2 separate regions of the Homo sapiens genome follow, and region 1 is linked to region 2. The links come from fine-mapping of genetic effects on gene expression. A gene starts in region 2. The other region holds a variant in brackets. All regions are shown on one strand. Distances are from middle to middle.

Region 1 (5,385 bases), 860 kb before region 2:
TCCTCATTCTTCCCTCCTTCTTCTCTCCTCTTTTCTACTCTCCTGCTTCTCTCCTCTCTTCTACTCTCCTGCTTCTCTCCTCTCTTTGCATCTTTCTCTCTCTCTTTGCATCTTTCTCTCTCTCTTCCTTTCTCTTTCTTCCCTACCTTCCACCCACTTTGAGGAATCGTAAACACCAAATCCTCCAAACCCTCTGAATTTTATTTTGTCATTTTAACCTTTAACAGCCTTTTCAGGTAAAAACACCAATTTCATCTCACCCTTTGCTTTTACCATCAGAAAAGGTCACCAACGGGTGGTGGTCTCTGCTGCCCTAGCATTACCAGACAGGCCTTTTGTACAGTTTTGAGTCCTTGATCAGCCACAGAGACGGTGACTCACTGCCTACCTCCTTCCAGTCTCGTCTCCTGGCTCCCTCAACCCTGAAGTGCCCAGGGGTGGTCTGATCCCCAAGGCTCTAGTGCCATCTGTGGGTACTGCCAGAGAACATTTGACAGGCCCGGTGTGCTGAGCCAGCCTGCCCTCCACTCCGTCAGCTCCTCCACTGCCAGGTTCTGTTGCTCTGCCTGGGAGCAGCTCCAGCTAATGCACCATTAGCCACTGCCTCTCAGCTTTGGTCACTTGGAAAAACCTTTTCCCTTTCTGTCCCTTAAAAATGGACCCAGTGCATAATATAAGATCAACTCTCACCACTGGGTTACATTAAGTAAGACCCCAGTCAGGGAACAGCCCCAAAAAGAGAGTCGTGATGGGAGCTTCTTCCAGTCCAGTTCCAGGAGCACAGGCAGTCAGGAAGTGCAGAGATAACTGAGTAACGGTGTAGGGTAAGCACCGCAAACCCAGACATGCTCTCCCATGCTGGAGTGGGCAGGGGGATATTAGGAGCCTGTCTGGGGGAGGTAGTATGACAACAGAAATTATCCAAGGGAAAAAAAAGAGGTGGGAGGGAGCCTCATGAACCAGGGTCGGGGGCATGAAACGGCAGAGCCTGCTGGAACGGGGCCAGGTGTGGTTTAGTACTCATGTTTGCTTGAAGTTCAATAACAGAGCCAGGAACAGACTGGGCATTGTGAAGACCCAAGACCACAAAGGAGAGACCTTTCTCCATCTTCCATGTTAAAAGGGAGAAATAATGAGTGCTTTAAAGAAGGAACAGAATCCCAACCCTGGAAATAAATTTTTAAAAAGGCTTGACACCAGCAGGCTTCTTCACACCCCTGGGGCCATGTGTAAAACAGGGACAAAACTCCAGCCACATGGCCATCTACCATAGAAGGCACCCTCGCAAACAGAGCAGGCAAAGCACCTTTCCTAGCCCTTGCCCTGTGCCGCATTTCCTCTTTTTCTCCTCATTTCCTAAAAAAAAAAAAAATTCTGGAATGTCAGACCAAGGTGGCCCTTTAAAAACAGCCACATTTCCTGGTCCTGTTTTAAATAAGCCATTCTGGAAACCTATAGCTCAGGATTATGGGACTGGAGGAGTGACTGCTGTAATATTGAGATAAAAACCTGTCATTTGTCCTGTACGTTGTCTTGAAAATGAAAATGGAAACTAATGTGATACAGTGAAACTTAAAGGAACTTTAGTAATTAGTATTTATTCCTGAGGTTGCTGAATGCTAGCATTATGTTCTAACTTAAATGGGTATAATTCACCCATTGCTTAAGACCTCTGGGTGCATTTACAACCAACTGAACACAAATTTAATTATTGTTGTGTTATGGGAACGAAGAACTGCCAGGGGTAATATTAAAAGTGGATTATTAAGCAAGAGAAATGTTAGCAACATTAGTAATCAGTGCAATTACCCAGTAGCATCTTCTTGCCCGTAATACCCCCAGTGTCCCTGGGGATGTGTGCTTTAGCAGTGACCCCTTTGCCAGTCAGCAATAAGACATCACCACAAATTAGGGCCCTCTGGGCCTGTATCTTTCCACTCATGTGACATGTACAATATTCCCCATTGCCCAGTCTTTCAAATAATTATAAAAAGAGTATGCGTTGGACTTGTAAAGCTACACATAAACGAGTCTCTTGTTCCTCTTCACTCATCTCACCATCCACATTCAATAGTTACCTACTATATACCAGATCCAATACTGATTCTGGATATACAAAAAGATGAAAGGCCTGCACACCCTCTGCTTCTCCCAGAAGAGATTTGGTCTCTCTCTGTCTCTCTCTTTTTCACAGTTAAAAAAAATTCTTTTATTTAAACTTTAATACCAGTATGTATCAGTCAGGATTCTCCAGAGAAACAGAACCAATAGGGGATTTACATTATGTTTGCGTGTGTGTGTGTGTGTGTGTGTGTGTGTGTGTGTGTGTGTGTGTG[A/TGA]GAGAGAGAGAGAGAGAGAGAGAGAGACTTATGAGGAAATGACTTATGTGATTATGGAGACTAAGAAGTCCCACAGTCTGCTGTCTGCAAGCCACAGACTCAAGACACCTGGTCGTACAATTCAGTCCAATTCCAAAGGCCTGAGAATTAGAAAAGCCACTGTTGTAAATCCCACTCAAATCATTAAAGAAGGACAACATTTCAGCTTAATAGGTGGGCAGAAAGAAAACAAAAGGCAAATTCCTCTATCCTCAGCCTTTTTGTTCTATTCAGGTCCTCAATGGATTGGACGATGCCCACTCACATTAGGCAGAGCAATCTACTTTACTCAGTGCTCCAATTCAAATGCCAATCTCATCCAAAAACACCTTTGCAGACACACCCAGAAATAATGTTTAATCGGGGCACCCTGTGGTGCAGTCAAGTTGACACATAAAATAAACCATCACACAGTTGCAAGGCAGTAAACAAACCAGATGTGGTTCCTTTCCCAGAGACGTTCCTGCTGGTGGGGAAGTCATTCTCTAGAAAGAGATTCAGCAATCCATGGCCCGACGGCCAGACATTTATTCTCTTTTTGACTCTTTCCTTTTCCACCAGTTTTTACCAAACTCCCTACTCTCTTATTCAGATATTTCACACATATGTAAGGCTCCTTGCTTCAAAGTTTTTAAAATAGAATAAAGTAAAATTTCCAAACTTATGTTTATGTGTTCATGAGAAAATGGAAAGAGATACACAGTGAAAAAACTCAGTTAATTAGATGAGCGTTGTCATTTCAACACTGACAATATTTTTTTAAAACTCAGACACATTTCAAACACTTCTAACACTAAGAAAAGTGGCAATTAAGGAGGCTCTTGAATCCAAAAAGTTGACAGAACCTTCTAAAAAGAAACTGATTACTGTAGAATTTTCCCCGGGGGCAGGGGCCAGGGGCCAGTGGAAGGTATGGATCAACTTTTAGATGTTGATGCCCTTTAATGCTTTAAATAAAAATTGCTATCATCAGAGATCACTGCTAGGCATTCATTCACAGCTGTGCTCTTCATGACAAACAACAAGCTCTTCAGAGGTTTCTGGCAAATATGTGTAAATTATAAGAAATGCAGTAGCAATTATGAAAATTCAGTATGCTAGCTGTACAGGAAATTTAAAGATCCAAGATAAACAATGAAAACTGAGGAACGCATATATTATGCCTGCATGCCGGTAATACCTGGCTTGATTTGTGAGCCCACTCACTGTTTATGATTTCTCCCCCCACAAATAAAAACCACAAAGTAATAACCAAAGCTTGTATTTACAACCAAAGCTACACTGAAACGATTGGCAACAACAATAACAACCTGGGTTGCAATTAAAGGTAACCCAGTTGATTTATTGACTTGGAAAAGCAAGAGATGATTAAAGAAGTCAATGTGGAACGGCCTGCCCTCCTATCCTCCCCAACCCCCAACCAGTACCATTTAAAGAAATTGAGACATATTCACATAAATCTGGTTTTATCTTTCAACGAAATGACCTAATGTTAACTCGGTTTGAAATGTCCACGCTACAAAGCAGTGTTTCAATACAGCAGTACTATTGACATTTTGGTCAGATAATTCTTTGTTTTAGGGACCTGCCCTGTGCTTTTACCCACTAAATTCCAGTAGGACCCCCGCCTCCCACCATGTTGTAACAACCAAAAATGTCTCCAGACATTGCCAAATGTCCTCTGGGGGAAAAAAAATCACCCTCAGTTGAGAGCCACTGTTACAGGGAGATTTATCACAGAAAGAAGAGATAACTTCAATCCAGACTTCATGGAAGCAAATTTCAAAAAGCTTCAGGCTGGTTCATTTCAGCCCAAAAGACAAAAGGATCGCCCAAATGGAACATTGTTATAGCTTTTCTATTGAATTTGTCTTTATATAGTTTATAAATGTTTGAAAAGCTTATATCTGTGTTTTATTTTAGTTTCATTTTGTCGGAATTACTCTGGGTATTTTTGTGGTATGAGATTAGATTCCAAGGTAGAAAGTGGAATTGATAAAATGACACTTACAGAAAATGAGAGTTTGTCTTACAATGGTTCAGTTTGTCATGGCTCCCTAGGAATCATTTAGATTTCAAACCAAGAGTCACTTGTAAATTAGACCTTTGGCTCTGTTGCTTCACCTGATGGACAATAATAAATGGTATCGATTGTTTAAGATCCCCAAATACCTCACAATCTCATATGTCCTAAAGGTTTCTTAAGAAGAAAGAAATACAGGGTAATTAGGCACTAAAGATAGAAGGAAGAGAAGATTTTGTGCCACAATTCTACCTAAGAATGATATTCAGGTCCAGGATTGCAGTCAACAGAGCAAGGAAGGGCAGTATCACCACCCAAGCTCCCCAGGAGAATGTGAATATCTAAGTCGCATGCCTAAGGGAGTGTTCCATGATGTTAGGGAAAGCAAAGGGCTAACCAGCTGTAGTCTCAGCTTGTGGCAGAGGAAAACACCCTCAGCTAAACCCCTTTACCCAATTCATCCTCCCAGATAAGAAATCCAGTACACAGAAAGGAAGCGACTAGGGGCAGGGGAGGGTGGGGGCAGATGTTCACCTCTAGCTTTTTCAGAGATGTTTCAATGCTGATTTTTCTTTCCAATTGTCCTGGCCATGACTGTTGGGCTACATGGTCCAGTTTTGTTTTAAACAAATGTAGTCACCACAGTAGGTCTCTGTAATGGCATGTTAGTTGTGAAGGTCACCTGGGATCGGGTCAACATGTGAATGTGACTGGCATCAATGGTCCTCACATCTACTTCTCTTGGCCAGACAGACAGATCAGTTCAGTCTCTCAAGAAACGCTGATAAAGTCCCTTCCTGCAAGGGTGGACCTTACCACAGAGCTCACAGCAAAGAAGGACAATTCGAAGTTCACCTCTTGGTGCTAAAGGAGGTATGCTGCTCTCCGTCATGATCCTGTTTATCACAGGGTCTTCTTTCAGATCGAGAGCCAGTGAAGCATCCCCAAACAGGTCTCTCCTATTAGAGCCTGGCTGCAACCCACTAC
Region 2 (5,385 bases):
AGAGTAATACCTCACTGCTGGGTGAGTATCCTGCATCTGCATTACAATTACTAGTGGGTTTTCTTAAAGAAAAACAAAGCTTTACTATAGCAAAAAAAAGACATCACTTTTAAGCACATGAACTAATTTAAAAGGAACCAGATAAAAATGTTTCCAAAAGCCATTAAAAATATTTAATAAGCTACCAGATTGCTTTGCTGGAAGAAATACATTATTTAACATCATGGATGCTCTATACAGTAGATTCTTTCAATAGCTAAGACACTTCTAAAGTAAGGTACCAATGGATGCAGATCAAGAAAAAGAGAGAAAAAAAACAGGAGACTGTTAGGAAACCAGGGAAAAGCAAATGTCATTTTACCCAGAAGAAACAAAAATACTGTTTCTATTTGTTTATAGCAGAAAAACTGTGCTGCAGAGAACATTATAAAAACACAAGCAAAGGGGTTGTTTGGCAAATAATAAAATGCAATGCTTACTGTGCATCCTCCATGAAGAGATCACTTATGGATTATAGATTAGTGTGATTAAAGGTACACTTTGATGCAAAAGATTATACTTTACCACATATATAATATGTAGCACTTTTCTACAAAGGGCAGTTTATGTAAGTAATAACTTCCACAAAGAGTGAGAGAAACATAGACAAAATGAGAAAGACAGAGGCAGGGTACAGTCAGACAGAAAGACAGAAATGCTGAGCCAAGGGGCTTGCTCATGTCCTGCAGAAGATTTGAGATATTCTTTTTCATCTCAGTGCTTAATTTTTCCTATTACTGCACACTAATACTCACATGCTATAATTATTTCATGAGCTAACCCTCTATACATCCTTCCCTTTAGTTTCTTCCATGAAAAAGAAAAAAAAAGAGAGAAACCTTTAGTCTCATACTTCATTTTACAGTCAACTATTCAAGTAAATATTTCTCTGATGGCAAATTTCCAGATGAATCTAGAATATGATCCAAAACCACTGTCAGATTACATTTGATTTACTATGTAGCTCTCTTCAAATGGAGCAAGAATTAGCCCGTTTCCTAGGTTTGGGTTCTTGTGCTTCCTGATCCTTCACACACATACAGGATGTGCACATTGTCTCAGACAGTCTTCGGAGGCCTAGCCGGAAAACGCTGTTGGAGAGGCTGTATATTACACAGTTACAAAAACTATTACTTATTGCAAGCCAGGTTGTTAAGAAGGACAGAGTTGGATTGTCCAAGACCCGGGAGCTTTCTAGAAGAAAGTAAATTATATAGGGGAGCCACAGCATATAAAATACACTGGTTATCCTAAACAAAACCATGGCGTAGCGACGGTCAGGGCTGTGTCCAGTCTCTCTGGAAGAATCTACCTCATGACTAGGGAATCGGGCTCTTCGGTCATTTATCTCTTTGGTGTGCTGACGGCAAATTTTGAAAATGTGGAAGTAAGTGAAGCAGACAACAAAGGCAGCAGGAGCATAAAGTAAACAAACAATAAAGCCAGTAAAATAGGCACTGGTGAGCCAAGACGTGGCACACCATTCAAAAATGTCACCATGGTAACCAGGTTTCCCCCAGCCAAAAAAGGAAGGCAAGAAAATTAGGCAGGAGTAGATCCAGATCAAAATAATGCAAATTCTCAAGCGACAAGGGGTGACCAGTTGATTGTAGGAAAGAGGCTTGGTTATTGCAAGATAACGATCCACACTGATGCAAGCAAGACATGCCATAGAAACACTTTTTAGAACTGAGATGATATATCCAAAAACCTGGCAAGTCAATGACTCGTGGACACCTGTGGAGTAGTGGAGAAGTGACAGAGTAGGAACCAAGCAGCTAACTCCAACGAAAAGATCAGCATATGCCATCGTCTGAATGAAATAGCTGGTAGTATAATGATGTAACAGTGGAGCACAATGAAAGACAAAGATAACTGTTAGATTCCCAGCAATGATCAGAAATGTCAGCAACACAATAACCACTGTCTCGAAGATGCAGACATCCACCACACTGTAGTGGCCAAATCCAAGTGGGCAGGAGTGACGCTCGGACACATTCACAATGCCACTGCTCATGTTCAGGATCCTCCATTCAGTCCACCTGGATTCATTCATGGCTTGGAAATTTAAAGACACCTGCAGACTTGGCTACAGCAAGCAGATGCCCTGCCCAGCATCTGTTAAACACCGCACATGAGTGTTTCAGAACCTGCTTCAGTAGACAGTGTCAGTGCTTCTGTCACAGCTGAGAGTCCCAGAGAGTGCTCAAGTCTCTTCACCAGCCTCAGTTCAGCAGTGACACACCTCAGCTTTCGGGCGGGGGGGTGGGGGGGGGGCGGTAAGGGGTGGAGAGAAGGGGATAAGCTAGAAAGGAGGTGAAAAGAGGTCACTAATTAGTTTCCTCTGGTGCCCTCAAAGAACTTTTTGCAGACATAAGGCACTTCTAGAGAAAATAGACTTCTTATTATCTTGCACTATGAAAAATTAAATCTGTAAAAAGAAAAAAAATGAATTGCCAAAGGAAGAAAAGCTTCTGTGGGCTGTTCTCCTAAGAGAGGCAGTTTCTTAGGGAGCAACTGGAAAGAATGAGAAAAGAAAAACTCTGAAACTGTCTCAGGCTTCCTGCTTTATCTATGATGAAAAATGCATTCATATTTTAGATTTTAAATAATTTAAGATCTCAAATTTGGTTGAAAAGCTAAGAAAAAGTTCATTGTGGCAAAGAGTGTCTTTGGGCTTAGTTCAGGGATTGATGTTGGGGGGTCAAATTTATAACCTATTTCTCATTTTTCTAAAATCTAAGAAAAACAACTCTATCAAAGTTAATTTGAAAAGATTCATCTCTACATGGGCAGAATAGAGGTAACAAACAGACTCCAGATTGCCCTATAACTCTCATGAGAAAAAAGTATTTTCCAATAGAAAAGAGAATATACAATGAATTAATGAATTAACACCTGGCAAAATGTAATAAACTTCTGAAGTTTTAATTCTGCATGCATTTTTAAAGCATTTAGATGAAAGCAGTTTTAATCCATTACAGTTACTGGTGGTACTAACAGCAACGTAACTTATACCTCTTCCTTTTCAAAATGAATTATTTTTGCTATTAATTTGGCATCTATAACTTAAAATAACATTTGTTATTTCATATACCACCTTCCTTATAATGGAGCATGATAATAAAATATGTAGCTCACAGTTATTTCTCACCTTTGCAACTGTATACCCATATCTCACATATATATGTAAATATAAAGTTAGACAATAAAACTTTCCAATATACTCCGAGCTTATTTGACCAGAAATGCTGCCATTATTTATTACTTAGGTATTTCTAATAGGCTTCATGTTCTATGTTGCTATACCTTTTCTATTTTCAGTAGATGATTTAACACATTAAATCATTACTTCAACTATATCTTCTGAAAGTGGAAAATTACCTTGTTTATTACATTTGCAGTTATGTAGCAGCCATATGTTAAAAAATGCCTCTTCTATTTTTCTGTACTCTATTTTGAGCAAGTGCTCAATTAACACAGGGGCCATTAGGTAGGTTGCAAGATAGTCTTATTTTAAAATACCTCTAAAGTATCAAGATGAACTTTAAATCCTAGAGTTTGAAACATTGCAAGGCTGCCAGGATAGAATCCATCCAAAATGCTTCCAAGGTCATTTTGATATCAGGTTAACATTTGCCAAAGTATTTTTTAAAAGTGAAGTCATTTCAGAGAGTCTCCTGTCATTCTTTGTTATCCTATCTTTTGAAGAAATAACATGCATTAGAAATAACATTTCCTCCAGGAACAATGCAGCAGCTTAACAGAAAGCATTCTTCTGAAAGTTATTTTCTGGTGCACCACCAAGTCATTCAGGCAAGTCCTTCTTCTTTTATAATAGCCATAGGATATTTCTTCTTCTACATTCCTAGTTTCACTTATCACAAAACAGTTCTCTTGTTACAGGAATAAGGTAATGCTTCTCACCTACATTCACTCTTATCAGCTGCTAGGCTGGGCTGCTTGATTCAGAAGTCCGATTTACTGTGATGCAGCTACAAGGATGCTGTCAGTATATTCTTCACAATCTCTCAGCATCAATGACTCCACCTGAGCCCAAGCCCTACTCCTCCTCCTCATCCTGGGCTGATGCAGAAAAACTCACCATCAGAAAGGTGACTCGGCCCTCCTGCCCCAATCAACAGCACAGCCAATGGCTACTGCAGCTGAAACTGTCACTAGGTAACAGTTGCCAGGCACATGCAGGCTTATAGACTTACTCGGCAAGCTCCGATCAAGACTGACAAAAGAAGACAATGGAACTGACCGATCTTTATAATATATTAAGGCATTTATGAACTTCTCAAGGTATTCTCCTTATAGCATTTGTAAAGATTATTTCGTATGGACAAGACAGAAAAAATAAACTGCCATACTCCTGTAAACCCTGTAAAGAAACTACCACAAGGTACTATGACACTAAAAAGTCAGCAGTAATCTAATGCTCATTGGCAGAAAAAACTTATTAATTATTAAAAATTTGCCAAGTCTTCATGAACTAAAGTGATATGACTACTAACTTCTCTCTAAAATATATAGTTACATTTTAATTAACAGAACTTAGAAATCATTTACTAATCTCTCCAATCCCCATCACCCCCACAAAAAATTGCTGAGTTTGATGTATTTAACTGTACAAACAAAGCAATAGAACTAACACTACTGTACCAAAATCTATTCAGAGCAATACTGAAGGTCAAATATGATCTCAAAAGAGCATAGAAATTAGAATAAATAAAAACATTGCTTATCCACTTTTTATCCTAATATGAAAAAAAAGGTCAAATGGTCAAAGAAATTTGTTCTAAGTGCTTGAGCTACACATACCTAAATTAGAACAATGCAAATTAATTTAATCAAATATTTGATGGACATTAAAACATTTCTGATTATTTTGACTTACTACAGACAAACATTCACTATTTTAAACTTCTTAGGGGATCAGCATTTTTCTTAAAAGTGACTTAGAACTAATTTACAAATTATGTCAGAATTAAAATACACCAGGAAAATTAAGATAAAAATGGAAGATAACTAACATTTGTTGAGTATTTTCTATATGCCAAGCATTGTGCTGTGTGCATTATATACTTTTCCTTTATAAAAATCTTAAAACTCTATGAAGTAGGTATCATCATTATCATTTTCCAAATGAAGAAAGCAGATAGTAGAGATAGTAAGTATAACTTGCCTATAATCACAGACTTGTGAAAATGGGACCGAAATAGGTTATTATTATTCTTAAAAGTCCTAAAAAACATAAAAAGATCAACAAAACAAAAACTTGATTTTTTGAAAAGATAAACAAAATCAACAAACCCTTAGCTAGACTAAGCAAAAAAGAAA

Which allele goes with the higher level. Positions count from the first base shown, and alleles are read on the strand shown. Sizes are in standard deviations (SD) of each study's normalised expression.
For the expression in monocytes of the gene that starts at base 2,243 in region 2, A is the high allele of the variant in region 1 and TGA is the other (large effect, 1.5 SD a copy in BLUEPRINT).

Evidence for each region. PIP is the estimated chance that this variant, and not a neighbour inherited with it, causes the effect.
Region 1: its variant is fine-mapped to the expression of GPR52 in monocytes (BLUEPRINT, PIP 0.95).

What each region holds. Positions count from the first base shown.
Region 1 is chr1:175,309,573-175,314,957 of GRCh38, reverse strand. All of the region lies in intron 1 of LOC105371623 (a long non-coding RNA gene), which reads right to left. Among named protein-coding and RNA genes, the nearest start is that of KIAA0040, 120 kb to the right of the region's middle. The variant A/TGA (reference allele first, on the strand shown) is at 2,337.
Region 2 is chr1:174,444,822-174,450,206 of GRCh38, reverse strand. GPR52 (G protein-coupled receptor 52) reads right to left here and starts at 2,243. Exons shown (of 1, transcript NM_005684.5): 1 at 662-2,243. The coding sequence starts at 2,095. The coding sequence ends at 1,010. All of the region lies in intron 13 of RABGAP1L (RAB GTPase activating protein 1 like), which reads right to left.